7 linked regions of the Homo sapiens genome follow. The protein of the gene in region 1 purifies or fractionates together with the protein of each later gene. This does not show direct contact. Each region holds a gene or a part of one and is shown on either strand. Other genes may lie near its edges. The genes, in order: SLC8A3, GDI2, TAF6L, TRAP1, CSGALNACT2, MKI67 and EMC7.

Region 1 (3,987 bases):
AACACTCTCCCCAGAGTACATATAAATGGATAGTATTCTCCAGAAGGCACAGGTTTCTACTTACGTTAACAAATGATTATCCTTCCCAGCAAAATGACTAAACAGAGCTCTAATAAATCAATTTGTCAATGGCCATTTCCCTTCAGGAGACAATATCCCCTGATCCATTTTTGGCAAGTGCGAATATGACCTACACTGAGTGCTTATGTCTATGGTTCAGAAAATCTTAGAGCTGGAAGGAACTGCAAAAAGGACTGACCTTGCCTCCAGGCAAGGAAAGTATTGTTATTCCCAGTTTGCATATCAGAAAGTTAAGTTCCAGAACCAATAAATGACCTGCCCCAAGTCACATTATTAAGAAGGGATTGAGTAAGAACAGATGCAGGATCCCCCGGGTCACTCAGTTCTGTCACCAGCAGTGCCCAGCTCTTTTTGAGCTCTGTCTCATGGCTGGACCTGGGCAGAAGCACTCCTAGGACACCTCTCCCTAGCTTCTATGGCTCCCCACTTTTCCATGAGTTCCTTCCTCCTCCTCTTCTAGAGGTTGTATGGCTTCATTTCTTACTGAAGGTATAATTAGCAGGTTCTTGAAACAGACACCCCACACACACAACTTCCTATATGCTCCTTTTACTCTTCACACCATCTCCTGCCACGCTTATTATTTGTGGATATGTTCAGTCATTCAGAGGAAGTTCCCGTTTGTCTTCTCCAACCTTCTAGGCCACCCAAGAAAGTCTACTTTCTCATAAGCTACAAATCCTGAGGAAAGTCATTCTGCTTTCCCTTTTAAAGCTATCCAACTGGAAAAAGGACAGAATAACCAATTTGCAAGAGGGTTCAATGGGCAGAGGCCTTAGGGTAATAGAGGTGACAGAAGTGTAATACCCACAGTTTCTGAAGGGCTGAATGGGGCAGTAGCCCAAGAAGAGGTACTTCAGGAGAGTCCTAGACTGTGAAAAGAGAGGACCACACAGAAGATATATTTCCTCCCACAATTCCTAGGATGTTTCTCCTTCACTGCTTCACCAGATTTTGGAGCTTAGACCTGTGACTAAAGACAAGTAGCCACTGCCCTGGGAGCTCTGCTTCTCCAAGATACTTTCCAGTATCCAAACCATACTGACTCAATTCAACTAGGCTGGGCAAGCCTCACACCATTAAATAGTCTATGGTCATTTAAAAAGATTGCTAAATTTCTATCAATTTTGCAATTTCCAAATTAAAGAAGACGTGCCTGGAATCTGGTTACACAGTGAGACTGGCAATATAGTACCAGGGAACAAAGCCAATGCCACTTGTTTTCTTTAGAATGTTCTGATGGGCTATTGCTGCCCAGAATGGAAAGGATTGGTTTCAAAGCTCATAGATACCCTTCATATGAGGAAGGGAGGAAGAAGAGGCCCAAGCAGTTCTCTAGTCCTTCTTAGTCACAAGAATTCTCCAAAATCTGATATCACAAAACTTCTGTCATCCCACAGCTCCACCAGCTATCATTTTGTGTTTCAGAGAAGAAAATGTTTTGTGTCCTTAGCTCTTGTCACAGGATTCCTTGCCCAGAAACAATTTAAAGTGAGAAAACTGAAGAAGAGTTTGGAAGCAGAACCTGTCCAGTGGTGTCTGCTGATCCTGCATACCTGTGATGGAACCAAAGTTTGACATTAACACAAACACAAGGAAATGTTGTAAAGTGCAGTACAGAAAGACAGAAAGAGATGGCAAAAGATGGGGTCAGGGAGGGGCAGAATACAGGAAGGTTACTTACACAGTTTCATCATTCTTGAATTCCAACTCCCCATATGTGTCTTCAAAGTCCTCACCGCCACCCTTGGCTGTCCCTTCTACTGTCCTAAAGGGGACGATGACTGTACCCCGGGCACCTGATGTCCGCAGAACCTTGACCTCCATAACACCAATACTCTCACTGACATGAATAGTATCACATTCAAAAGTGAAGATGCCTGCATGGTCATCATCCAAGATGGTAACTGTGGCCACACAAGGGGAGGCTAGGACAGCCCGAGGCAAGGGAAGACTGTTGAATATTGCTGGAGGCATCCCCTCCTCTGGCTGCTCCTCCTCTATGCGGACATTGCTCAACCTTACAAAGAAGTGTTCATCCTCCTCAAAAATGTCGTCATCAATTATGCCCACGGAGAACTCCTTCTGGGTCTCTCCTGGCTTCAGAACCACCGTGCCCTCTGTGAACTCATAGTCAGCCCCTGCATTGGCAGAACCATCCTCTGTTTTGTAGTCCACATACATGGTCTTTGACATGTCTCCCCCTTTCCTCACCACTGTCAGGAGTACAGCCCCACAGTTCTCCAGGCACTGGTAAGAACATGGGTCAAAGAAGACCTTGGAAATAAAGTCCTCAGGCTCATCGGTGTGCACCTCGCTCATGCTGGAGGCCTTCTTGGCTTGTTCTGCTGCATGTTTCTTCAGGATATTGCCTGCACCAGTCATCATACGAGTGGCTTGGATACGGTAGAAGGCACGGCTCTTCTGTTGGTGGGAAAGAGCATAGTAATTGGCCATCTCCACCAGCTGATCTAAGTCCTTCTCTGGGTGTTTTTGCTTCAGATCCTTGAGAATCCGGATCATCTCTCTGCGGGACTCATCCACTTCCTTCCCTTCCAGGGGCACCAGGTTCCCATCTAGAAAATGGGAATTCATCATTTTCCCATCCATCTCAATGCCCTTAGGGTGGTCACCCTCTGTCTCTATGATAATTCCTCGGTGTTTGTCTGTGCGGTACTTTTTGTGCATGTATTTGTAGAAGAGCAGTCGTTTATCTGCCACCCAGGCCAGAAGGACACACACTGGAAAGAAGAAGAGAGTGAGGAGGCCTTCCCAAACCTGGACCACACCAGGGGAGAAGACTGCCAGAATCATATAGAGCCAGATGTAGGCAAAGATACTCCAAGCAGCGGTGATGAAGAAGACTCGTAGATGCTTGATCTTGCGAGTCTCTCCGTCTGGGATCACGTAGACACAGATGCCAATGATGATGAACATGTTGAAGGCTGCACTCCCTACAATGGTAGAAGGTCCCAGATCACCAGCAATGAACCCATGACCACACACCTCAATTAAAGAGAGGAGTATCTCAGGAGCAGAGGAACCCAGGGCCATAAGGGTCAGGTTGGAGACAGTTTCATTCCAGACCCGAATAGTGGTTGTGCTGGTTTCTCCATTGGGTTTCTTAATTGTCACCTCCCTCTCTTGAGAGGTGATGACTTCAATAGATGCCATGAAGCGGTCAGCAATGATGGACACCCCAAGGAACATGTATATCAGGGCCACAAAATAGACAATGACCCTGGCAATCTTGTCCCCAAGGGAAGGGTTCTCCGGGTACCAGATTGGCAGGATGACACCCTCCTTGCAGTCCGATGACCCTGAACAGGACTCATTGTTCTGCCCTGTGCTTGGCACGTCCCCTGAGCCACCAGCCTCTGCTCGAAGACCATTCAGGAAGAGCACAAAGGTAACCAGCCCAAAATGGAGGAAGGCAGAGGTGAGAGGCTGCAACCTTAACCACGCCATACACGAGACTTAGCCACTGGCTTCTATTGCAGCACCAGTTGTCCTCCTGATAGGCCAGAGACCTAGAAAAGATCAGAGAGGCAGGAAAAGGCATGAGGAAAAAGGGGACAGCAAACGGCAGGTTCCCACCAATACAACTGATGCTTCACCTCCAGTGACATATTGCACTAACATATGGGGCAGTCTCTCACTTGGAAAAATAGATGTCAATGGGAGGCACAAATAGCTGCTCTGTCCTCCAAACCATCTGGTGGAGACTCCGTTGAAAAATGGCTTGAAATAGCTGGGAATACTGGGGATGGAAATGCAGCAATAGCCTTCAAGTCCTGTCTCCCAAACTGGTATTACCTGTGAGAGTTCTCAAGAAGCAACTTAAAATAGGCCATGTATAACCTGAATCTTCATGCCCATTTATACTGTTTCTGGGGTGTTCGGACT
Region 2 (3,987 bases), on another chromosome or scaffold:
CACTCCAGCCTGGGTGACAGAGCGAGACTCCGTCTCAAAAAAAAAAAAAGAAAAAGAAAACTTAGATCCTCTAAAATTAAAAAAATGTGAAAATTTTAAAACCCTACAAACTAGAAAAACATTAAAATAATGCTGTTTCAAAAGGCCCAGTTATTTAAGACTGTCATAAGCATCAACAGGTAAGTCTGTGCCAAAGGCTTACAATCTTGTTATGTATTATGCCACAGCATCATTTGTTTCTCCAGAACCAATTACTAGTAAGTCACAACCCCTTCCTTCCTTTCCTAACTTATTGACTCCAGACATCTAATGGACCATGTTACTCACCATGCTGTTTCATTCAACAAAATCCAGTTCCTCATACCCAGAATAGTACTCTGTCAAAAGTTAGTTTTGATATTAAAATTGTAATCAAAGTACTGTCATAAATTTAAGTTAGAAATTCTTTACCATTAGCCATAAGGAACTTGGGAATCAAGTCAACATTCCAGTCTCTTCCTCTCCCCATTGACTCGGGTGGTGATCCTGGTATTTTAAATCTTTTGTATAACTAAAAGCAAGGAAAAACATAGCCATAATGTTAACAAAATTTAATTTTTTATTACAATATGTACATATTTTTTATTAAGTGCTTTTAGTATAACTAAACACCACCATGCTAGTAAAGTATAAGGGCATTTCATCTTTTATCAGATAAAATTTTTAGCAAGGTCCAATATATATGTAAATTAATTACTAAACTCATAAATGTTAAAATTAACAAATATGGCAGAAGTAAGGTTTTTCACTAGCAGAAAAGAAAGAATATAAAACAAGGCCAGACGCAATGGCTCATGCCTGTAATCCCAGCACTTTGTAATCCATGAGGCGGGTGGATCCCTTGAGGTCAGGAGTTTGAGACCAGCCTGACCAACATAGTGAAACCCCGTCTCTACTAAAAATACAAAAATTGGCCAAGCATGGTGGCTCATGCCTGTAATCCCAAACACTTTGGGAGGCCGAGGCGGGTGGATCAGGAGGTCAGGAGTACAAGAAAAGCCAGGCCAAGATGGTGAAACCCCATCTCTACTGAAAATACAAAAATTAGCCAGGTATGGTGGCAGATGCCTGTAATCCCAGCTACTCGGGAGGCTGAGGCAGGAGAATCGTTTCAACATGCGAGGCAGAGGTTGCAGTGAGCCGAGATAGCGTGACTGCACTCCAGCCTAGTGACAGAGTGAGACTCCATCTCAAAAAAAAAAAAAAAAAAAAAAAAATTAGCGGGGTGTGGTGTGTGCCTGTAAGCCCAGCTACTCGAGAGGCTGAGGCAGGAGAATCACATGAATCTGGGAGGTGGAGAATCACATGAATCTGGGAGGTGGAGGTTGCAGTGAGCTGGGATGGCACCACTGTACTCCAGCCTGAGTGACAAAGCAAGACTCCATCTCAAGAAATAAATAAATAAAACAAGATTATTTGTCAATGACACTGTATAGTTCTCTATACGGACTGTATATGCAGAACTAGGGTGTCACTGACAAATAGCAATCATCTAAATTCATTCTCTCCCAAATAAAAAGCTATCAAAGGCTTAATTTTGCTTTTGTATTATGTAAGGAATTCAAAATAAACCTTAGATTCTTCCTAATCAGAAAAGATAATTAAAATTAGTTCTAGTTCATTTATAATTTTTGAGCTTTACTGAGGTATAACTGATACATAAAGAACTGCCTACTTCCTGCATACATTTTGGTGAGTCTAGACACAAGGTACACCCATAACATCACCATAAGGTACCAATCATATCCATCACCTCCAAAATTGTCCTTTTGTTCTTTTATGATGTTTTGTGGTAAGAATACTCAAATTAATTTATAATTCACATGAATTGAAATGAAGCTCAGATTTCAAAAAGCTTATAAAGTTAGAGAACAGTCACTTGAGCTCATGAATCCTACTGCTAAGGTGGAAAAGAATAAGCAAAATTAGTAAGTATTTATTCAATAAAAATTCTGGCTGGGTGCGGTGGCTCATGCCTGTAATTCCAGCACTTTGTGAGGCCAAGGCAGGCAGATCACCTGAGACCAGGAGATCGAGACCAGCCTGATCAACATGGTGAAACCCCACCTCTACCAGAAATACAAAAAATTAGCCAGACGTGATGATGTACGCCTGTAATTCCAGCTACTCGGGAGGCTGAGGCACGAGAATCGTTTGAGCCTAGGAGGTGGAGGTTGCACTGAGCTAAGATCGTGCCACTGCACTGCAGCCTGGGTGACAGAGAAAGACTCCATCTCAAAAAAAAAAAAAAGAAAAAATTCATGACTCCCTCAATACATCTGGGGAGAAAAAAAAGAAAAGAAATCTTACTCATTGTATTGAAGATCAGCTAAGAAATATACTAGGCCAGGCACAGAGGCTCACACCTGTAACCGCAGCACTTTGGAAGGCCAAGGCAGGCAGATCATTTGAGGAGTTCGAGACCAGCATGGCCAACAAGAAGAAATCCCCATCTCTACTAAAAATACAAAAAATTAGCCAGGCATGGTGGTCCACACCTGTAATCCCAGCTACTCAGAAGGCTGAGCATGAAAATCACTTGAACCCAAGAGATGGAGGTTGCAGTGAGCCGAGACTGCACCACTACACATCAGCTTGGACAACAGAGCAAGACTGTCTCAAAAAAATAAAAATAAAAATAAAATAAAACAAAATTAAGAAAAGAAAAAAATTGTGAGGAGATTTGTAGATTAAGAAAATAAAGAGGTGCCCAGGCATGGTGGCTCTCACCTATAATCCCAACACTTTGGGAAACCAAGGTAGGAGGATCACTTGAGGCCAGGAGTTTGAGACCAGCCTGGGCAACACAGAGAGACCCCATCTCTACAAAAAATAAAATAAGCCAGGCAGGTGGTATGCATCTTTAGCCCCGCTACTTAGGAGGCTGATACAGGAGGATCGTTTGAGCCCAGGAGTTCAAGGCTACAGCAAGCTACGATCGCACTGCTGCACTTCAGCCTGGGCAACAGGGCAAGGCCCTGTCTCTTAAAAACAAACAACAACAACAAAGAATAAAGCGCTCGGGCGTGGTGGCTCATGCCTGTAATCCCAGCAGTTTGGGAGGCCAAGGCAGACAGATCACATGAGGTCAGGGGTTCCAGACCAGCCTGGCCATCATGGTGGAACCCCGTCTCTACTAAAAATACAAAAATTAGCCAGGCATGGTGGTGCACGCCTTTAATCCCAGCTACTTGGGAGGCTGAGGCAGAAGAATCACCTGAACCCAGAAGGTGGAAGCCATAGGGAGGCGAGACTGTGCCACTGCACTCCAGCCTGGGCGGCAGAGCAAGATTCTGTCTCCAGAAAAATAAATAAGAGAATAAAGAGAAAATTATACCAAATACAAACAGCTACGTAAGAGATTACTGGGACCACTGGGAAATTTGAATATGGTTCTGGATATGATATAATGGTATTATGCTTATGCAGGAGAATGTTATTCTTAGCAGATGAATGCTGAAATATTTTGCTCAAGCCTCATGATGTCTTATCACTTTCAATGGATCAAAACCAGTAACAAAAAAAGAGACATGAAAAAAATACAGCAAACTTTAACTGCTGAACTCTGATGGAAGATTTTTTTATACATCGTATTATTCTTTAAACTTTTCAGTATTACTGAATATAGAAAAAAATCCTTTTTGGTAAGTATTGTCTAATAAGTCACTGATTAAAGTCATTGATGATATCTATCTCCCATAAGACACAGTACACATCATATCCATATACGTAGGTGTTCAACAAACCTCACGCAGAAAAACAATCAATATATTAAAACACACTGTGGAAATGCTATGTGTCCACGTTCAAAAAAAGTAGGAAACAAGGCAGTATAGCAAAAGGAACTAAGCTTTGTAGTCATGTAACTTGGGTTTACAACCCATCTCAGATTTTAACCCCACAGAGACTATGTTAAATGGAGATTAAAAAAAAAATCTTTGAGGGACT
Region 3 (3,710 bases), on another chromosome or scaffold:
CATGGAACTATAAAGATTGTTTACTATCAGGAAATCTGTAATAACATTGGAAAACAAAAGCTGAAAAGCCTTCGGATCATTTCAAAAGATGCAGAAAAACCATCTGATAAAAATCCAATATAAATTGATGATAAAATTAAGAATATAGGCCAGGCACGGTGGCTCACACCTGTAATCCCAACACTTTGGGAGGCCAAGGCGGGCGGATCATGAGGCCAGGAGATCGAGACCATCCTGGCTAACACGGTGAAACGCTGTCTCTACTAAAAATACAAAAAATTAGCCGGGCATGGTGGCGGGCGCCTGTAGTCCCAGCTACTCTCGGGAGGCTGAGGCAGGAGAATGGCGTGAACCCGGGAGGCGGAGGTTGCAGTTAGCCAAGATGGCGCCACTGGACTCCAGCCTGGGTGTCAGAGCGAGACTCCGTCTCAAAAAAAAAAAAAAAATTAAGAATATATATATATGGCCAGGCACCGGTGGCTCACGCCTGTAATCCCAGCACTTTGGGAAGCCGAGGCGGGCGGAACACGAGGTCCAGAGATTGAGACCATCCTGGCCAACATTGTGAAACCCCGTCTCTACTAAAAATACAAAAATTAACTGGCCCTGGTGGTGCGTGCCTGTAAGTCCCAGCTACTCAGGAGGCTGAGGCAGGAGAATCACTTGAACCCGGGAGGTGGAGGTTGCAGTGAGCCGAGATCACGCCACTGCACTCCAGCCCGGGCGACAGTGTGAGACTCTGTCGCCCGGGCTGGAGTGTAGTGGCGCCATCTTGGCAAGATTCCATCTCAAAAAAACAAAAATCTCAAAAGCAACAAATAGAACTTATTCCAGGTATACAAAAGTGGTTCAGAAGAAGAATCCATTAATACACCTAGCATATCAACAGAATAGAACTTGTCATATTAAACCACATAATCGGCTGGGCGTGGTGGCTCATGCCTATAATCCCAGCACTATGGGAAGCCGAGGCAGGCAGACCACTTGAGGCTAGGAGTTTGAGACCAGCCTGGCTAACATGATGAAACTGCCTCTCTACTAAAAATACAAGTTAGGTGGGCATGGTGGCACGTGCCTGTAATCCCAGCTACTCGGGAGGGTGAGGTGGAAGAATTGCTTAAATCCAAGAGGGAGAGGTTGCAGTGAGCTGAGATCATGCCACTGTACTCTAGCCTGGGCGACAAGAGCAAAACTCCGTCTCAAAAAAAAAAAAAAAAGATCCTCCCTCTTAATATTATCACAGTGGCAACACCTAACTTTTTTTTTTTTTTGAGACAGAGTCTCGCTCTGTCGCCCAGGCTGCAGTGTAGTGGCGCAATCTCGGCTCACTGCAAGCTCCGCCTCCCGGGTTCACGCCATTCTCCTGCCTCAGCCTCCCGAGTAGCTGGGACTACAGGCGCCCGCCACCACACCAGGCTAATTGTTTGTATTTTTAGTAGAGATGGGGTTTCACCGTGTTAGCCAGGATGGTTTCGATCTCCTGACCTTGTGATCCGCCCACCTCAGCCTCCCAAAGTGCTGGGATTACAGGCGTGAGCCACTGCGCCCGGCGCCAACACCTAATTTTTAAAGCGTATAATCATTTGATAATTTCTACAGATGCTAAAAAGGTATGACAAAATTCAGTATCTATTCATGTGTAAAATGCTCAATACAACAGGAATTGAAGGTATTTCTTAATGTGATAATATAGAACGGGCAGGAATTTATAAAATGTGGGGACATCAGTATCTGCCATATAGGACTTTCGAAAGGATAAGACATTTACATTCAGAAAGTCAAGTATCACTGAGCCTGGCCTAAGGCCAGAACTCAATACATGGCAGTGGCAGGCACACACTATTTTGGAGATAACGATGCACAAGTACTATTTTTCTAACACAAATGGGAGTTCTTACGGCTGTGTGAGAAAGGCCAGGGTGCTCACCTTCCAGCCAAGAGCATGCAGCCCCACCACGGCTCCATAGTGGCAGCAGAGCGGCCGCACAGGATCTGCCAGGATCTTCTGCAGGGATAGCAGGATATGCTGATAGAGGCCACTTACAAGGTCCCCATGAGTCCTGTGGGAGCACCATTCAGTTAGGGAGGGGAATGAGGCATGGTGCCACCCAACAGGGCACAAGACAACACAAAGAGAATAGCATCTGTACAGCACACTCGGGAGTGCTGGGGTTAAGTGAAGAAGGCTGCCAGGGGTGACTGGCCTAGGACCTGAGGGCTGAAGAACCAATACCTTGGCGTATTTGTAATCCATTTTCAGAATCCCAGTGTGTCACAGCACACCAGCTAGGACGCTCCTAGGGAAAAGGTTCCCCATCTTCTCATAGACTCTCAAAGCCAGAGGCTTCGCCCCATTTCCTTACCCCAACCCACTTGGCTCTGCAGCAATCCCACCCGCAGGTTTAGGCCCAGTGGCTACCAGAAGATGTGGCTGAGCAGGAGGGCAGCCCCATCCCGCAGAGTCCAGTGGTCATTCAGGGGGTTGATGGAGGCAGCCAGTGGCTCCAGGACACAGTAGAGGACACTGCCCACCAGACAGCGGACATAGGGCCCCAAGCACAGGTGCGGATTACGAAATAGGCTCCGTGCCACCTGCAGCAGCCGGTGCAGTTGCTCCAGGTCATGGCTTACAGATTTCACCTGTTGGGAGAAGAGGGTAGCTTACAGGGACATGAGGGGACAGGCAGGAGCCCACCATTCTGACAGCACTTGCCATGAGCCCTACACCTGCTGGGTCATCTCTTCCTTATAAAACATTCTCCCTGTCCCAGCCTGGTCACTTACCCCACTGACCACATAAACAAAGTAAGGCAGGAGTGCCCCAATCTTGGAGTTCGTCTGCAAGTCCTGGAGTGCAACCTAAAAGGAAGGGCCCAGACTGCATTGGATCCACCAGAAAATTGTAAAACATGAATGCGGTATTCTTCTGGAAGACAGTGTATCACCTTATTCATGTTTTACAATTTTAATGTTCATATTCTTTGATCTAGCAATTCTATTTCTATAAATGTAACCTACAGAAACTCATTCACATATACCTGCATATGGCCCTGAATACAACCTGAATGTCCAACTTTTTTTTTTTTTTTTGAGACCGAGTCTCGCTCTGTCGCCCAGTGGCACGATCTTGGCTCACTGCAAGCTCCACCTCCCAGGTTTTACACCATTCTCCTGCCTCAGCCTCCCGAGTAGCTGGGACTACAGGCGCCTGCCACCACACCCGGCTAATTTTTTCTATTTTTTAGTAGAGACGGGGTTTCACCGTGTTAGCCAGGATGGTCGCGATCTCCTGACCTCGTGATCTGCCCACCTCAGCCTCCCAAAGTGCTGGGATTACAGGCGTGAGCCACCGCGCCCGGCCATCCAACATTTTTAACTGAGAAAGGCAATCTATAAAACCAGATGCTTAATATAATACCACTTAGGTTTTTATGAGAGTAATCATAGTTGATACAGAGAAAAAAAAGTAGGTGGAGGAATAGACTTTTCAGTTTCTTTTTCTTTTTTTTTTTTCTTTGAGATGGAGTCTCGCCCTGTCGCCCAGGCTGGAGTGCAGTGGCTCAATCTCAGCTCACTGCAACCTCTGCCTCCTGGGTTCAAGCAATTCTTCTGCCTCAGCCTCCCAAGTAGCTGGGATTACAGGCGCCCACCACCACGCCCAGCTAATTTTTGTATTTTTAGTAGAGACAGGGTTTTGCCATGTTGACCAG
Region 4 (3,987 bases), on another chromosome or scaffold:
TCTGGGCCTCTGGCACCTTCCAGGCACATCCTTACCCTCCCACCAGTGCTGTGCTGTGCTCTGAAGGGCTCAGCCTCACTGCTGTGTGAAGGTGCAGCCCAGGGAGTGGCAGGAAGAGGGCGTGCACACACTGTCTCCCCTCAGAGGATGTTGGGGGCTGGGGAGCCACAGACAGGTGGGACAAGCCAAGGACTCCGATCCCGTGGGTGGGGAAGTGGGTGGTCTCAGTGTCTGTTGAGGGACTATTCATCATGTACTGGATATCAGTCTCCAAATACTATGCTACAGGGGCCAGTCGTTCAGTTAATCCAATAGTGGATGGCTGAAAAACGAAACATTTGTTCCATAAACATTTTTTGTCCATTTTTTATTGAGATACAACTTACATAGCATCAGATTCACAGAATTCACCTTTTAACACGTAAAATTCAGTGGCATTTAGTGCATTCACAGTGTGGTGTGGCTGCCTCCACTGTAACCCCAGAACATTTCATCCCAGGAGCCCATCCCGTGCTGGTGTCCCTTCTCCCCAGCAGCAGGAGGAGGGTGACCACGTGTGTGGGGTCCCAAGGAGGCCGTGTTCTGGTTGTTTGCCGACTTCGGCAGCTTCTGACACAGGCCTCTTCATTCTCCTTTATCTTCATTTGAGTTAACAGCACACAGGTAAGAGTCAGAGACATTTCTAGGTCTTTGTAGGTGTGCACGTGTGACATGTCTTATCAATGCAGACCCACCATGTGTGCAGGGGTGGCCTGGGCCCTGCTGGTTGGGTGTCCAGCTCCTTGCTTTTCCCTCTTTCTGTTTTCCCCCTGCGTCCTTCCAGCTGCAGCTCCCATGAGCTCTAGAGGTCACAGCTGCGTTCAGCTGATGGGGAGGAGGGCAAACCCCTCCCCTAAGGGCCCTTCTCCAAATCCCACTGAAACCCACTGGGCAAAGCCAGTCTCTGCCATAGCCAGCTGTGAGGAGGGCCGGGAACCGTGGACTTCACCCGTGTCCGTGTGCCCACCAGAGACTGACTCTGTCACTGAGGGCAGAGGGAAGACGCTGGGTCCAGGCCGGGCTCTGCTGTTGGGTGGGGTCCCCTCCCAGGGCGTGGTGCGCGTAGCTCCCTGGAGAGCCCCTGGGCCACCTGGGGCAGGAGGTGCTTCCTAAGCCCCCAGAGCTCCCAAAAGGGGCCTGATGGGCAGAGCAAGGCCTGCTCTCGGACAACCCCCGAGTCCACTACCGTCCCTCGGGTCAGGGCCAGCCTGGAGTGCCAGGAGGCCATGGGCATCGGAGGGTTTGCGCCCAGTTAGTTGGGCAACATTGAGCCCATGGGCCTGGAATAAGTGGTGACCTGCCCCGTCCCTTCTAGGAGGACATAGCAAAGCTGCTGCGCTACGAGTCCTCGGCGCTGCCCTCCGGGCAGCTAACCAGCCTCTCAGAATACGCCAGCCGCATGCGGGCCGGCACCCGCAACATCTACTACCTGTGCGCCCCCAACCGTCACCTGGCAGAGCACTCACCCTACTATGAGGCCATGAAGAAGAAAGACACAGAGGTGGGTGAGCGGTGGGTGGGGCGGGCTCCGGGGGCTGCAACCTGGGGAGGGTCTTGACCTTCTCAGCTCTGTGCTGGGTGAACCTGCCCAAGACTCCGGGCAGGGCTGCACAGTGGGTCAGGGTCACGGGCACAGAGGCCGGACCGACTGTGACGGCTGTTTCCCACTTGGAGGTCACATGTGGTTTTTTTTGTTTGTTTTTTGTTTTTTTGAGATGGAGTCTTGCTCTCTCGCCCAGGCTAGAGTGCAGTGGTGCGATCTCGGCTCACTGCAACTTCCGCCTCCTGGGTTCAGGTCATTCTCCTGCCTCAGCCTCCTGAGTAGCTGGGACTACAGGTGCACACCACCACACCCAGCAAATTTTTGTATTTTTAATAGAGACGGCATTTCACCATGTTGGTCTCGAACTCCTGACCTCATGATCTGCCTGCTTTGGCCTCCCAAAGTGCTGGGATTACAGGCGTGAGCCACTGCACTCAGCCACATGTGGATTTCTTTATGCGTGGAGTGCTTCTGCCTTGAAGGCAGTCAGAGCCTTCCTTAGACCCAGGTGTCGTAGTAACTGTCATGCAGGCCTAGGAACCCCAACTGCCCCGGTGTTCCCCAGTGTGGCCCGCTTGGCTCCCCCAGCCCTCCTGCCGCCCTCATCCTTTCTTCTGTGGTGGCTGGAGGCCCCCGGGGTCTGATGGAGCTGCTCTTGGCCACCTGCAGGTTCTCTTCTGCTTTGAGCAGTTTGATGAGCTCACCCTGCTGCACCTTCGTGAGTTTGACAAGAAGAAGCTGATCTCTGTGGAGACGGACATAGTCGTGGATCACTACAAGGAGGAGAAGTTTGAGGACAGGTCCCCAGGTCGGCATCCCCTGCTCTCTAGGCGTGGGGCTGGTTTCCACTCCCCGCACGCCTCTCCTGCCCCGCAGCGAGGGCTTCCTTTGGGTTTTCGTCAGTTGACCTGGGCTCAGCCACCCCCGAGAAGAGCCTTGTGGGAGCACCCTGGTGACTGGAGGAAGGTGCCTCCTGGTTTAGATATCAGGGGTCTGTCCAGTGCTCCTGCCACGGTGGCTTCTGGAGCTGGCCCAGCTTCTTGAGAGGCTGTGTATTTTTTTAAAGCCCTAACCAAGTTGTATGGGCCTCAGGCAACCTGAAGCATCCTTTGAGGTTTTACTTTTAGATGAAAAGCATCTTGCTAGCTTGTGTCTCCATCCTGGTGGGAGAGGAGGTGGGAGCTGGAAGCATGCTGCGTGGCCCCCATGGAAGCCGGGGAGTTGGGATGCAGGCCTGAGCTCCCTGTCGCCTGCTCTTCCGCAGCCGCCGAGTGCCTATCAGAGAAGGAGACGGAGGAGCTCATGGCCTGGATGAGAAATGTGCTGGGGTCGCGTGTCACCAACGTGAAGGTGAGGCTTTCCCGGGGATGGACCACCACTTGGCCGCAGTGTCCCTAACAGGCTGGCCAGCTGGTGGCTCCCAGTACCTGGCCCGTTGGGTGTCCTTCCAGCAGCAGCAGAAGCCCTTGGTGTCAGGTGGAGACCCTGTGGGTCCCTGCTCGGCACGTGTTGCTCGGGAGTGCCGCTGAGGCAGGAAGGCCGTGTCTTTCTCCCAGCCCTGCTCCAGAGCAGGTGTGAACTGAGAACTGAAAAACCAGCATCCTGAGTGGGAGCTGCAATGGCTGAGGACGTGGGGGTTCCAAACAAGGGACATGCTACCCCAGCCCTCAGGAGCTCACATGCTCACTTGGGTGCTTAGTCGGGGGTTTTGGGTGGGCTTCAGAGAGCTAAGACTCCCCCCACCAACCTGTCTAGCTCAGAGTGAGAAATGAGCGTCCCATGCATGGTCACTTGGAGGAAGGGGCCTCATGCAGGGTGGGCTGGCATGGAGCAGAGGACGATGGATTCGGGCAGCTCCTGGAGGCAGCAGCGGGGCACCAGGGTGGTGGAGCCCCTCGGGCACAGTATCTTTGCGTGGGGCATCAGCTCAGGGCCCACAAGTTAGTGGGTAATGGGGAGGGAGCAGCGCTGGTCCAGGGGAGTCCTTGAGACCCCGCCTGCTACCTCGTGGTCTGGGTGACCTTCACCCCTGGTAAGATCCTGCCAGCCCTCTCACATTGGGAACCTCTATCACCCTCAACCCCGGGCTTTGCTCACAGGTGACCCTCCGACTGGACACCCACCCTGCCATGGTCACCGTGCTGGAGATGGGGGCTGCCCGCCACTTCCTGCGCATGCAGCAGCTGGCCAAGACCCAGGAGGAGCGCGCACAGCTCCTGCAGCCCACGCTGGAGATCAACCCCAGGTGAGGCCACGCTCCTGGCTCTTCCAGCCTGTGGGATTCCCCAGAATCCTGTGTGTGGTGTTCTTTTGTTGTGGAATGTGACACAGAAGAAAAGTGCGTGAGGCCTGTGGACATGTGGGTAACTATAAGGAGCTGTATGCAGTTTAGGCTGCACCCATGT
Region 5 (3,987 bases), on another chromosome or scaffold:
CATACAATACTAGCATTTGTCTTACTAACATAATATTGACCAACATATTTTTCACATTACCTTCTACGAAGTCATTTTCATTAAATATCAGTTTCTCTCCAAGGGGACCCTCCTCATCTTCTTGTTCATCATCTTCATCAGGATTATTAATGACCTCCAAGCCCGCTTCAATAACTTCCACCAATTCATCTCGTTTGTCTTTTCTAACTGGCTTTTCTTCAGGATGGCGAGTGAGACCCATTTCCAATTGAAATACTTTCATTAAGGTAAAACTTTCAAAGGGAATGACCCCATACTCACTGGGTAGTTTGGCCCCTATGCTAACTTCAGCTTTGTCAATTTGGGAATGAAGAAACTCTAAAAGATCACTAGGTGCTTGCTCTTTGTTGCTCTGATAGCCTATGCCATTAGCCCCTACATTCCTTCTTTCTTGCAGTGACCGCATCTTCTCACTCATTTCTTGTAATTCTTGTTTTAGTTGGGCAATTTGGCGTTTCAGACTGGTTGCCCTGGTCTGATAATGTTCTTCTTGTTCCTGTAGGAGGGCTTGATAATACTCTTTACCATAATTTTCCCCAACAACACCAGGAAGAGATGCATTTCCATCAGTCTGGGGGGCACATTCCAGGAGGTACATAAATAATACCAAACTGCAGAGCAAAGCAAGGCCCAACAGCAACCAGTGGGTCCGGGTGTGAAGAATCAGTCCTCTTCTAGGCATTCTTATTAATGTGTATTTGCCTAACAAAATAAGCTCTTTGTGTGTTCATACCTTTAGTAAAAAGTTATCAAAAATTAAAAACAAAATCAGAATTTCCATAAAATAATTCTGCCGTAGCTTTAAGTTTTTCTTTCTTCAGCAGTCATGACTACTTGCAGAAATGGGAAATTATGTATACTTTCTGTATTGTTACCATGATATCCAGAATAAAGCAATCTGATATATAAAATCCATTATATTGGTAGTGATTTTTCTGAAAGACACAGATCAGAATCAATCAGAATTTTGTTCCCTTAAGGATATCAAATTTGTTTGTGGCTTCAGTAAACTTAGCTACGTGACTACTACATGCAGAGAACTATGAGAGGTACTAATATAATTTAGAATATTCAGTAAATACTAGGAGAATTTTTTTTTTTTTTTGAGATGGAGTCTCACTCCGTCACCCAGGCTGGAATGCAGTGGCACAATCTTGGCTTACTGCAACCTCTGCCTCCTGGGTTCAAGTGATCCTTCCATCTCAGCTTCCTGAGTAGCTGGGACTACAGGCATCTGCCTACCACTCCCAGCTAATTTTTGTATTTTTAGTAGAGACAAGGTTTCACCATGTTAGCCAGGCTGGTCCTGACCTCAGGTGATCTGCCTGTCTTGGCCTCCCAAAGTGCTGGGATTACAGGTGTGAGCCACTGAGCCTGGCCTGGGAGAATTTTTTAAAATACCTTAAAAAACAATAAACTATGTATAATACTTTTAACTATTATGTCTACACAGCTATAACTTGAATCAAAGAAACATTAAAATTACGTCAGCATAGTCTGTATTACATATATTCTACTGTTCTCTAATTATTTGAAAATTATATTGCCTATAACTCTTTATTAACATAGTATTTCAATTACCGCACCATTTCCCAACTAAAGCTTATGACCATTTGGGAACTGAGTTTATAGAAACTGTTTCTGTTACAGTAATAACGGTTTACTGGAGAGAGAGATTTTCTCCCAGTTTATTCAACTCAAGCATTCTACCTCATTAATTTCTACTGCTCAGCTCAGCCAATCTAGGAGACTTAAAATTAAGTGGGGGAAAGAACAACTTCAAAAGCTCACAGACATCTGAAAAACACATTAAGAAAACATTTTTATATCCAATGTCCTCCAGTAGATTATTTGCACATTAGATCACATAATTCTTTCCACTGTATTATGCATCAACAGATTTCCTACAAGTCTAGAAAGGTTTGGAGTCTATATAAAGAAAAAACATGAAGAATTTAATCATCCTTATCAGCAGAGAAAAAAATTCAAAAACCATTTATACATTTATAAAATTACATGCTATCGTTCATGCCACAACCAGTTGTGCGAACTCTTCCATGTCTTTAATGATTCTTAACTCTAAAAATAGAGGTTTAACTTAGGACAAGGGAGGCAAGGAGGACTCCACTGCAAAGAGAACTTCCATTGTAACAAAGTGCTTGTTGAGAAGGATAATGTGATATGACAGCAGGTTTTTAACAGTAATGGTTTTCTCACTGCAGCAAAACCTGGAAGATCACTACAGGTTATCAGTCCTAGCCACTTTTTTAATGAGTAGAAAAACCTGGATGCTTTCTGTGGCAAATGCTGCAATGCGTATTTTTTTTTTTTTGGTAACATGTCTGTATAAAACATAGGACAGAAGAAAACTTCTTATGGCCAATATACCACAAATAATGGTCTTAACTCTCCTTAGTCATTTATTATTTTAGTAAACGAAATGATAACCAAGTATCTTGAAAAATTTAACTCACTACAAGGGAGTCCTTTTTTTTTTGAGACAGAGTCTTGCTCTGTCGCCCAGGCTGCAGTGCAGTGGCGCGATCTTGGCTCGCTGCAAGCTCCGCCTCCTGGGTTCGCGCTATTCTCCTGCCTCAGCCTCCCGAGTAGCTGGGACTACAAGCGCCGGCCACCACGCCCGGCTAATTTTTGTATTTTTAGTAGAGACGGGGTTTCATCGTGGTCTCATCTCCTGACCTCGTGATCCGCCCGCCTCGGCCTCCCAAAGTGCTGGGATTAGCCACCGCGCCTGGCCAAGGGAGTCTTTTACTATTACAGCATCTCTCTTACTGATTATAAATCTTGTTTGAGTGATGTAGAAAAAAACAGAAAAAAAATAGTTGGCTTTAAGAAATACCATCTAATCAAAAAATAACTAGTATTATTTCCAGGACTTAACCATACCTCAAAACCATAATCCCTAGCATAAGAAAACACTTGAATTTCATTATTTAAAAGATAAACCTAGCGGTATCTGTTTTAACTATTACTAGCCCATTTATTAGGAAAAAGAACTGAAAATGTGGAGACATAATCTTGTATAATAAAGATATACATACTTTAATTAATAAAGATATACATACTTAAGCATGTTATACTCAAAACTGAAGTGAAACTGGGTAACAGAACTACCACTATCTTTTATTAATATGGTACCTCATATGTTTTCTTTATATACACAATGTATTTTAGACTATGAGCTATAACTCAGACAATAGGTCACTACTGAAGGTTTACTTTTCAATAAAATAGAATGGAAATTATCAGTGGCAGTGTTAAAAAGCTAAGGTCATTTTTCTTCCTCTTCCCTTTAAGGGAAATACAGGTTTTGAGATATCCTACTTAATATTACAGTTGAATATTTTCCAATAAAATGAAAGGATACTGTAATTACTTCAGAATGTAAAAGTTGCATAATTCTGTGGTTATTAAAAATGAAAGATTTCAATTAAAATCTTATTTGCCTAGTTCCCGAAAGAAACTCTTTGGCCATAATCTAGAAGATTACATTATAGCTGTTCTATCATATAAATATATTAAGAATATTATAGAAAACATTTTTCTGTTGTTACATCTTGATTGTCATCATTCTATGAAATGTGTTTGTATCATGAATACGGTTCATTCACAGCCCAGAGTTAATCCCAACAAGCCTTCTAAGCACAAATGCAGATAGTTAAGTGTTTTGAGGAGAGAAAAGGATAATGTGAAGATGGGAAAATAAGCTGTTAAAGGTATGTAATATGAAGCCAAAGATCTCAGGATTGAAAGAAACCTTACAAGCCATCAATTCTAACTCTCTAAAACTGCTTAAAAAACTGACTTCCTTTTACGACCAAGATGAAGTAACGGGCCAGATTTACTCTCAGATTTGCTCTCTTTGGTTGTCTTGAAACAACCAAAAACAAACAAACAACTTTTCCTGCCAACAAACCCAAAATATGAAAC
Region 6 (3,987 bases), on another chromosome or scaffold:
TTTCCCCAAGGATATCTTGAGTCGTTGCTTGGAGCTTGTTGGGGTTTTGACTGGGTCTGGTTGTGGAGATTTGCAGGATACTTCTGTGATTTTGTCATCGGTCATTGATTCCTCAGTGTGACCTGGTGTCTGGAAGAGCTCTTTGAAGCCAGCCAGATCTTCTAGAGCCTTGGCCTTTTCTTTAGGAGTTTGTGGCCGTCTCTTGCTGCCAGGTAAATTTCCTAGCAGGTCCAGTTTCTCCACTGGAGTCCCCACAAATGTGTTGATGTCTTTCTCTTCACCTACTGCTGCTTTAGGCGTGTGCATGGCTTTGCCTGCTGATGGTGTTAGTTTCCTGAATGCTAAAAATTCTTCCTCTACGTCTGCTTTCTTGAGGCTTCTCTTGGGCCGTTGCTTTGTGTTTGTTGGGGTGTCCGCTGGGTCTGATTGCGGAGATTTGCAGAGTATTTTTTTGGTAGTTTTCTCATCAGTCGTGGGGTTATCAGTGCATGGTGTCTGGAAAAGCTCTCTGAAGCCAGTCAGTTCTTCTAGAGCCTGGGCCTTTTCCTTACGAGTTTGTAGCCGTCTATTGCTGCCAGGTAAATTTCCTGGCTGGTCCAGTTTCTGCACTGGAGTTCCCAAAAACGTGTTGATGTCTTTCTCTTCACCTACTGCTGGTTTGGGTGTGTGCATGGCTTTGCCTGCTGATGGCGTTTGTTTCCTAAATGCTAAAAATTCTTCTTCAGTGTCTGCTTTCCTGAGACTTCTCTTGGGCTGTGGCTTGGAGCTTGTTGGGGTGTCCACTAGGTCTGGCTGTGAAGCTCTGTAGGATACTTTGGTAGTTTTTTCGTTAGTCATTGATTCCTTAGTGTGACTTGGTGTCTGGAAGAGCTCGATGAAGCCGGCCAGGTCTTCAGGGACTTCAGACTTTCCCTTAGGAGTTCTCAGCTGCCTCTTGCTGCCAGTTAGACTTGCTGCTGAGTCTAAGATCTGCTTTGGAGACTCCATAAATGCTTTCATGCTCTTACCATCTCCTGTTGGCTCTGTGTGTGTGTGTGTAGTCTCTCCTGATGTCTGTGTGAGCTTGCCAACTGCTAGGAGCTCTTCTTTCACGCCCACTTTCCCCAGGGATGTCTTGAGCCGTCGCTTGGAGCTTGCTGGGTTTTTGTCTGGGTCTGGTTGTGAAGATTTGCAGGCTACTTTGGCAGTTTTATCGTTAGTCATTGATTCCTCAGTGTGACCTCGTGTCTGGAAGAGCTCTTTAAAGCCAGCCAGGTCTTCTAGAGCCTGGGCCTTTTCCTTAGGAGTTTGTAGCCGTCTCTTGCTGCCAGTTAAGTTCTCTGTCAGGTCCAGTTTCTGCACTGGAGTTCCCATAAATGCGTAGATGTTTTTCTCACCACTTACTGCTGGTTTGGGTGTGTGCATGGCTTTGCCTGCTGATGGTGTTCGTTTCCTGAGTGCGAAGAATTCTTCTTCTACGTCCACTTTCCTGAGACTTCTCTTGGACTGTGGCTTGGAGCTTGTTGGTGTGTCCACTGGGTCTGGTTGTGATCTGCAGGCTATTTTGGTAGTTTTCTCGTGAGTCGTGGGCTTGTCAGTGCATACTGGTGTCTGGAAGAGCTCTTTCAAGCCAGCCAGGTCTTCTAGGGGTTGGGCCTTTTCCTTAGTTTTTGGGTGCCTCTTGCTACCAGTTACACTTGCTGCTGGGTCCAGTTTCTGTTTTGCAGTTTCCCTAAACGCGTTGATGCTTTTATCCTCACCTCCTGGTACTTTATCTGTGTGTGTGGTTTCCCCTGATGTCTGTGTGAGCTTCTTCAGGGCTGAGAGCTCCTTCTGTACGTCCCTTTTCTCCAAAGGTGTCTTGGGCTGCCTTCTTGTGCTTGTTGGGGTGTCTGCTGATTCTGGTGGAGAAGATTCGCAGGGCATTTTAGTAGTTTTGCCAGCAGCCACTGCTTCTTCAGTATGACCAGGGGTCTGGAAGAGCTCTTTAAAGCCAGTCAGGTCTTCCAGAGCCTGGGCCTCTTCCTTAGGAGTTTGTGGCCGTCTCTTGCTGCCGGTTAAGTTCTCTGTCAGGTCCAGTTTCTGCACTGGAGTTCCCACAAATATGATGATGTCTTTCTCTTCACCTACTGATGGTTTAGGCGTGTGCATGGCTTTGCCTGCTGATGGCATTAGATTCCTGCACGCTAAGAGTTCTCCCTCTACATCTGCTTTCCTGATACTTCTCTTGGGTCGTTGCTTTGTGCTTGTTGGGGTGTCCACTGGGTCTGACTGTGGAGAGTCGCAGGGTATTTTAGTGGTTTTACCAGCAGCCACTAATTCCTCGGTGTGACCAGGAGTCTGGAAGAGCTCTTTAAAGCCAGCCAGGTCTTCTAGAGCCTGGGCCTTTTCCTTAGGAGTCTGTAGCTGTCTTTTGCTGCCAGGTAAAGTTCCTGCCAGGTCCAGTTTCTGCACTGGAGTTCCCATAAATGCTTTAATGTCTTTCTCATCACCTCCTGCTGGTTTGGGCGTAAGCATGGCTTTCCCTGCTGATGGTGTTAGTTTCCTGAGTGCTAAGAATTCTTCCTCTACATCTGCTTTCCTGAGACTTCTCTTAGGCCATTGCTTTGTGCTTGTTGGAGTGTCCACTGATTCTGGTGGTGGAGATTTGCAGGCTATTTTGGTAGTTTTCTCATCAGTCATTGATTCCTCAGAGGGACCTGGTGTCTGGAAGAGCTCTTTGAAGCCAGCCAGGTCTTCTAGTGACTGGGCCTCTTCCTTAGGCGTTCTTGGCCACTTCTTCATTCCAGTTACACGGGCTGCTGGGTCCAGGATCTGCTTTGGAGACTCCTTAAACGTTCTGATGCTCTTGCCATCTCCTGCTGGCTCTCTGTGCGTGTGCGTGGTCTCCCCTGACGTCCGTGTGAACTTGCCGACTGCTAGGAGCTCTTCTTTCACACCTACTTTCCCCAGGGATGCCTTCAACTGTTGTTTTGTGTGTGTTGGGGTGTTTATTGGTTCTGGTTGTAATGACTGGCAGGGCATTTTAGTGATTTTGCCTTTCTCACTCTTTGGTGCCTTGGCATGATCTTGGGTTTGGAGGAGATTCTGGCCACGTGCCGTGTCTTTCATGAGTTCTGTATCAGGCAAGCTCTTGAGGTCTGTCAGGTCAGACATTGGTGCACATTTCTGCCCCCAAGTTCTTGATCTCTTCATTGCTTTCATCTTTTCATCGTTTTCTTTTAATTCAATATTTTCCTTATATGTCTCAAAAGGTCTTTCTATTTCCTTCATCTCTCCTTCTCTCCTTTGTTGTAGTAGTGTTGCCTTCTGACCTCTTTTTAGGATGCACTCAACAATTTCTGTATTTGTTTCTTCACTCTTACTTTCCACAGGTAGCTTCTGTATATTCCTGAACTCTGTAGACCTTCCTGACCTGTTTGCAGTGGATACTGTTTTTGAAGGCTCTGTCTCAGTATCTGAAGTTTTTGTCTCCAGAGAAGTCATTTTGTAGGTGTTCCTGGGCGTTTTTGCTACGTTTCCATTTTCTCTAATACACTGCCGTCTTAAGGGAGGGCTTGCAGAGCATTTATCAGATGGCTGTTTTGCTGCATTCTGTGCACTGAAGAACACATTTCCTCCTGAAATAAAAACATACACAATAAAAACATTCTATTAGTGTCTCATGTCAATCGAGTATTACAGCCTCATAAAATATGGTAAAAAACTAAATATTTAGCTTCGTATTCACTGAACGACATGAGGCTACTTATGTGTCTATAAATCTGTCTTATAAGAGCCATGCACAATTAAGAATAATGTTATTTGGTGCTATAGTGGGGTCATCATTAAGCAAAGTTAGATGCTGAAATGATCATAGAAGGTAAAAATACTGCTTCAGAAGGTTCCTCCAAAGGTTGCCATGCCCTGTGTCATTGACGTAAATATAGGCATTTTTTCCTTCAAACATTAGAAACAAACAGCTGTTTCTTGCCTTAAATCGCCAATAAAATAACATGGATTATCCTT
Region 7 (3,987 bases), on another chromosome or scaffold:
AAAAAGATAGGTGGGTGGCACAACTATGAAGTGAGGTGTCTATAAAGTCCAAACATACATACAGAAAACTTTAATATTCTATAATAGTCCACCATAGTCAGACAGACAGCCCCTTGCTATCATCAGAACTGGCTCAGTAGAATTGCGGTGGTTGCTACTAGTGTTATTGTATAGACAACGTTTAAATCTTTAATTTTACCATTGGTTGTTAAGTGCAGTTTTTGTTCTATTAACTGTAAAGTGGGGGAAAAACATTTTCTGGATTTTTTTTTTCTGCAGGTTATGATGATGGTTCTTCCTTTATTGATATTTGTGCTTCTGCCTAAAGTGGTCAACACAAGTGATCCTGACATGAGACGGGTAAGATGATGGTCCAGCTATGGATTTTTTTTTTTTTAAGAGATAGAGCCTCTGTTGCTCAAGCTGGAATGCAGTGGCACAATCAGTTTGAGTGGCCTCAAACTCCTGGGCTCAAGCTATCCACCTGCCTCAGCCTCCCAAAGCACTGGGATTATAGGTCCGAGGCACCATGCCTGGCCCCACCTGTGGGTTTTTGAACCGTATTGTGATGTTTGCTCTGTCCCATCGTAGCTGGGTAGCTTAGTTTTTCTCAATTTTATTCTAGTTCCCAAGCCAAATTAATCTAGAGGTTGTATTAACATAGTATCATGTTTATGGCTTTTAATTAGTTGCTTCCATTAGACTAGATAAATTGTTAGTTCTGCCTGGCCTGGATCTCTTTATGTAGCTAAAACATCTTACTGCATCCTAGCCTCTTTGTGTGCCTTACTTTTTAAATAGCTGAAATGTACAATACTTCTGGTATGCTGAATCTAAATATTTTACAAAGTGATTGTTCCTGTGATCTGCCTTTACTTTACAAAACTCTCTTCAGAGTACATACTCAGTTTATGTGTTCAGACACACAGATAGACCAAGGGGGATGGATAAGTAGAAGAGTGACCTTTGAATTCTGTTCCACAAAACCATACTGGTTCTGCAGAGGGAGAGGATTTGCTAAGTAGGATGCTTCCAATTTAGTGCCACCACATTTTCTCTTTGAATATTGGCTTCTATTTGAACTCTTCATTTTTTCAAAAAACCATCATGCATTTTTCCGTTCAACCATCAACAAGTATCTTCTGAGTTTCAAGGTTCCCCATTTTATTTAGTATATAGATGTGGTGACATTTTATTCATTCCTGAGTAAACATTTATCAATTTCTAGGGTCTAGATACTGGAGATACAGAAATGAATTATAGGCCATACCTGTCATCAGTAGGCTCAGTCCCAGTTAAATGTAGAAAATAGAATGGATTTATCAAATATTCTTCTTGCTATCAGGGGATTTTGTGACTTTTTCTTTTCTTTTTTCTTAATAGAAATTTGTCTTATTTCTTAAAGAAATAAGGTAAATAAAAATGTTTGCTAAGGTAGTAGGTGATTATGTTCTGTGGAAGGTAATAAGGGGTATATTCAAAGCAGGAATGGCAGAAAAAGATTCATAGGAAAAGAAAGGTTTTTGATATTTCAAAATGTTTTATTGGTGAATGTTTGCATTTTTGCTTCAGTGTTAGACTGAAAGTAATACATCCTGTGCATTCCTTGTATATGTTAAGCCAATTAACTGTGGCATCAGTAGAAGGAAACATCAGAAGTCACATTTGATTAAAAGTTCATTCTGGCCGGGCGCGGTGGCGCAGGCCTGTAATCCCAGCACTTTGGGAGGCCAAGGCAGGTGGATCACCTGAGGTCAGGAGTTCACGACCAGCCTGACTAACATGGTGAAACCCCGTCTCTACTAAATACAAAAAAATTAGCCGGGCATGGTGGCGCATGCCTGTAATCTGAGCTACTTGGGAGGCTGAGACAGGAGAATCGCTTGAAACTGGGAGGCAGAGGTTGCAGTGAGCTGAGATCGTGCCATTGCACTCCAGCCTGGGCAATAAGAGCAAAACTCCGTTAAAAAAAAAAAAAGTTCATTCCTTGTGAAGTGCTTTGCACATAGTAAGCATCTTAAAAAGTTGATTCAAGAGCTTCAGAAGCTCTCTTCCTTGGCACTGCCTGCAGAGGTGGCACCATCTCCTACTTGGCATCATGGCTGCCCTCAGATCCTTTGTGAAGCCCAAGATCATCAAAAAGACAACTAAGAGGTTTATCTGGCACCAGTCAGACCAATATGTCAAAATTTAGCTTAACTGGCAGAAACCTAGAGGTGTTGACAACAGTGTTCGTAGAAGATTCAAGGGCCAGATCTTGATCCCCAACATTGGTTATGGGAGCAGCAAAGAAACAAAGTACTTACTACCCAGTGGCTTCTGGAAGTTCCTGGTCTACAACATCAAGGAGCTGGAAGTACTGCTGATCTGCAACAAATGTTACCGTGCTGAGATTACTCACAGTGTTTCCTCCAAGAACCACAAAACCATCTGGAAAGAGCAGCCCAGCTGGCCATCACAGTCACTAGTCCCAATGCCAGGCTCCACAGTGAGGAAAAGGAATCAACGGCTCTCATGCATGTTTTATTTGTGTTTAAATAAAACCACAAAAACTGAAAAAAAAAAAAAAAAAAAAGGGGAGCTTCAGAATTGAACAGATTCAAAAATAGAGTTGATATATGTTTGCAGGGACTCAAGAGCTGTTACCATATACATTTATTTCTTAATTATTGGGGCATGTTAACATACTTGATTTATGTTTACAATATTTCTTTCGCTAGCCTTATTTGTAAAAGCAACTTCTCCTTTAAAATTTAGGAATCAATTCTACCTTTGTGGGAAAAGCTCAAGCTAATATCCCAACAGTGTTCAATTTGAAATGGAAGCCTAGTGCTGTGCTGTGTGCCTATAGTCCCAGCTGCCCAGGAAGCTGAGGCAGGAAGATCACCTGAGCACTGTCTCCTAAAAAAAAAAAGAAAAGAAAAAAATGAAAGAAATGATAGATAATATAGTATTTGCTATCTTTTTCATGTATGAATGAACTAAAGTCAATTTTAAGTTCACTTTGAGAATGTCACTTAAAATTTAAATGAAGCAGATGTTACATTAATATTATATAACTATCAAACAGTACTTTATAGATTTTTGGCTCAATTAAAGGGGAGGACAAATACTCAAAAGTGCCAAGTCCTATCCTGTTTTGCCAATGACTTCTTTGTAACAGTGTGTTGCTTGCTTTAGAGTCTAATTGAAGTCATGCAAGCCATACAGCATTCATAGATTTACTACTGAGGCTTATAAATGAATTCTTAGAAATATTGCACTTATTTTCCAAACTGTACTGATACCTTGATATATAGTTAAAAATTAATATTCTGGTTATATGCATCTAAAGGAAGCATGAACTTAAAAATGTACTCATTAAAACAATAAGAAATCACTTTAATCAGAAAACATAAAATAAGAGAGGAATATGATCAAATATATTCAGTATCAGAAAAAAGTGTTCTTTATTAAGACAAGCAGAATCACACGAAAGGGAACATCACACACAGGGCCTGTTGTGGGGTGGGGGGAGGTGGGAGGGATAGCATTAGAAGATATACCTAATGTTAAATGATGAGTTAATGGGTGCAGCACACCAACATGGCACATGCGTACGTATGTAACAAACCTGCACGTTGTGCACATGTACCCTAAAACTTAAAGTATAATAATAAAAAAAAAAAAAGGCAAGCAGAATCAAACCCTAGGCAGTCATTTATTGGACATTTACTAAGAGTCAAAATGTCTAGTGGTATAAAGGAGATATGGAAAATAGTTACTAATGATATATAGGTGAAGTACTACTGAGTATGATGTTGCATCATTGCTCAGAACCAGTACCTTTCACTTGTTCTACTCCTTTACTTTTTCCTTAATAGGAAGTGTTAGGAGTTAAAAGACTCGAAGGATCCTACATATCATTGTGCCTTGTCTTCTTGCAGGAAATGGAGCAGTCAATGAATATGCTGAATTCCAACCATGAGTTGCCTGATGTTTCTGAGT

Evidence for each region.
Region 2: the proteins of SLC8A3 (region 1) and GDI2 purify together in Homo sapiens (affinity purification with mass spectrometry; one large-scale study listed by BioGRID and IntAct). This does not show direct contact.
Region 3: the proteins of SLC8A3 (region 1) and TAF6L purify together in Homo sapiens (affinity purification with mass spectrometry; one large-scale study listed by BioGRID and IntAct). This does not show direct contact.
Region 4: the proteins of SLC8A3 (region 1) and TRAP1 purify together in Homo sapiens (affinity purification with mass spectrometry; one large-scale study listed by BioGRID and IntAct). This does not show direct contact.
Region 5: the proteins of SLC8A3 (region 1) and CSGALNACT2 purify together in Homo sapiens (affinity purification with mass spectrometry; 3 studies listed by BioGRID and IntAct, with this or other methods). This does not show direct contact.
Region 6: the proteins of SLC8A3 (region 1) and MKI67 purify together in Homo sapiens (affinity purification with mass spectrometry; one large-scale study listed by BioGRID and IntAct). This does not show direct contact.
Region 7: the proteins of SLC8A3 (region 1) and EMC7 purify together in Homo sapiens (affinity purification with mass spectrometry, with the first as the bait; one large-scale study listed by BioGRID). This does not show direct contact.

What each region holds. Positions count from the first base shown.
Region 1 is NC_000014.9:70,164,874-70,168,860, forward strand, and holds part of SLC8A3 (sodium/calcium exchanger 3 isoform D precursor), read right to left. Parts: intron 3,612-3,987; 5' UTR 3,550-3,611; coding exon 1,766-3,549; intron 1,638-1,765; coding exon of another isoform or gene 1,568-1,637; exon of another isoform or gene 1-1,567. UniProt on the Homo sapiens protein: Mediates the electrogenic exchange of Ca(2+) against Na(+) ions across the cell membrane, and thereby contributes to the regulation of cytoplasmic Ca(2+) levels and Ca(2+)-dependent cellular processes.
Region 2 is NC_000010.11:5,796,313-5,800,299, forward strand, and holds part of GDI2 (rab GDP dissociation inhibitor beta), read right to left. Parts: intron 551-3,987; coding exon 451-550; intron 1-450. UniProt on the Homo sapiens protein: GDP-dissociation inhibitor preventing the GDP to GTP exchange of most Rab proteins. By keeping these small GTPases in their inactive GDP-bound form regulates intracellular membrane trafficking.
Region 3 is NC_000011.10:62,781,043-62,784,752, reverse strand, and holds part of TAF6L (TAF6-like RNA polymerase II p300/CBP-associated factor-associated factor 65 kDa subunit 6L), read right to left. Parts: intron 2,860-3,710; coding exon 2,785-2,859; intron 2,641-2,784; coding exon 2,420-2,640; intron 2,298-2,419; exon of another isoform or gene 2,255-2,297; coding exon of another isoform or gene 2,061-2,254; coding exon 1,928-2,060; intron 1-1,927. UniProt on the Homo sapiens protein: Functions as a component of the PCAF complex. The PCAF complex is capable of efficiently acetylating histones in a nucleosomal context. The PCAF complex could be considered as the human version of the yeast SAGA complex.
Region 4 is NC_000016.10:3,661,827-3,665,813, reverse strand, and holds part of TRAP1 (heat shock protein 75 kDa, mitochondrial isoform 1 precursor), read left to right. Parts: intron 1-352; exon of another isoform or gene 353-1,354; coding exon 1,355-1,540; exon of another isoform or gene 1,541-2,251; coding exon 2,252-2,390; exon of another isoform or gene 2,391-2,846; coding exon 2,847-2,932; exon of another isoform or gene 2,933-3,168; intron 3,169-3,681; coding exon 3,682-3,827; intron 3,828-3,987.
Region 5 is NC_000010.11:43,151,884-43,155,870, reverse strand, and holds part of CSGALNACT2 (chondroitin sulfate N-acetylgalactosaminyltransferase 2), read right to left. Parts: intron 975-3,987; 5' UTR 722-974; coding exon 61-721; intron 1-60. UniProt on the Homo sapiens protein: Transfers 1,4-N-acetylgalactosamine (GalNAc) from UDP-GalNAc to the non-reducing end of glucuronic acid (GlcUA). Required for addition of the first GalNAc to the core tetrasaccharide linker and for elongation of chondroitin chains.
Region 6 is NC_000010.11:128,105,825-128,109,811, forward strand, and holds part of MKI67 (proliferation marker protein Ki-67), read right to left. Parts: intron 3,600-3,987; coding exon 1-3,599. UniProt on the Homo sapiens protein: Protein that associates with the surface of mitotic chromosomes and acts both as a chromosome repellent during early mitosis and chromosome attractant during late mitosis.
Region 7 is NC_000015.10:34,084,426-34,088,412, reverse strand, and holds part of EMC7 (endoplasmic reticulum membrane protein complex subunit 7 precursor), read left to right. Parts: intron 1-279; coding exon 280-360; intron 361-2,046; exon of another isoform or gene 2,047-2,555; intron 2,556-3,926; coding exon 3,927-3,987. UniProt on the Homo sapiens protein: Part of the endoplasmic reticulum membrane protein complex (EMC) that enables the energy-independent insertion into endoplasmic reticulum membranes of newly synthesized membrane proteins.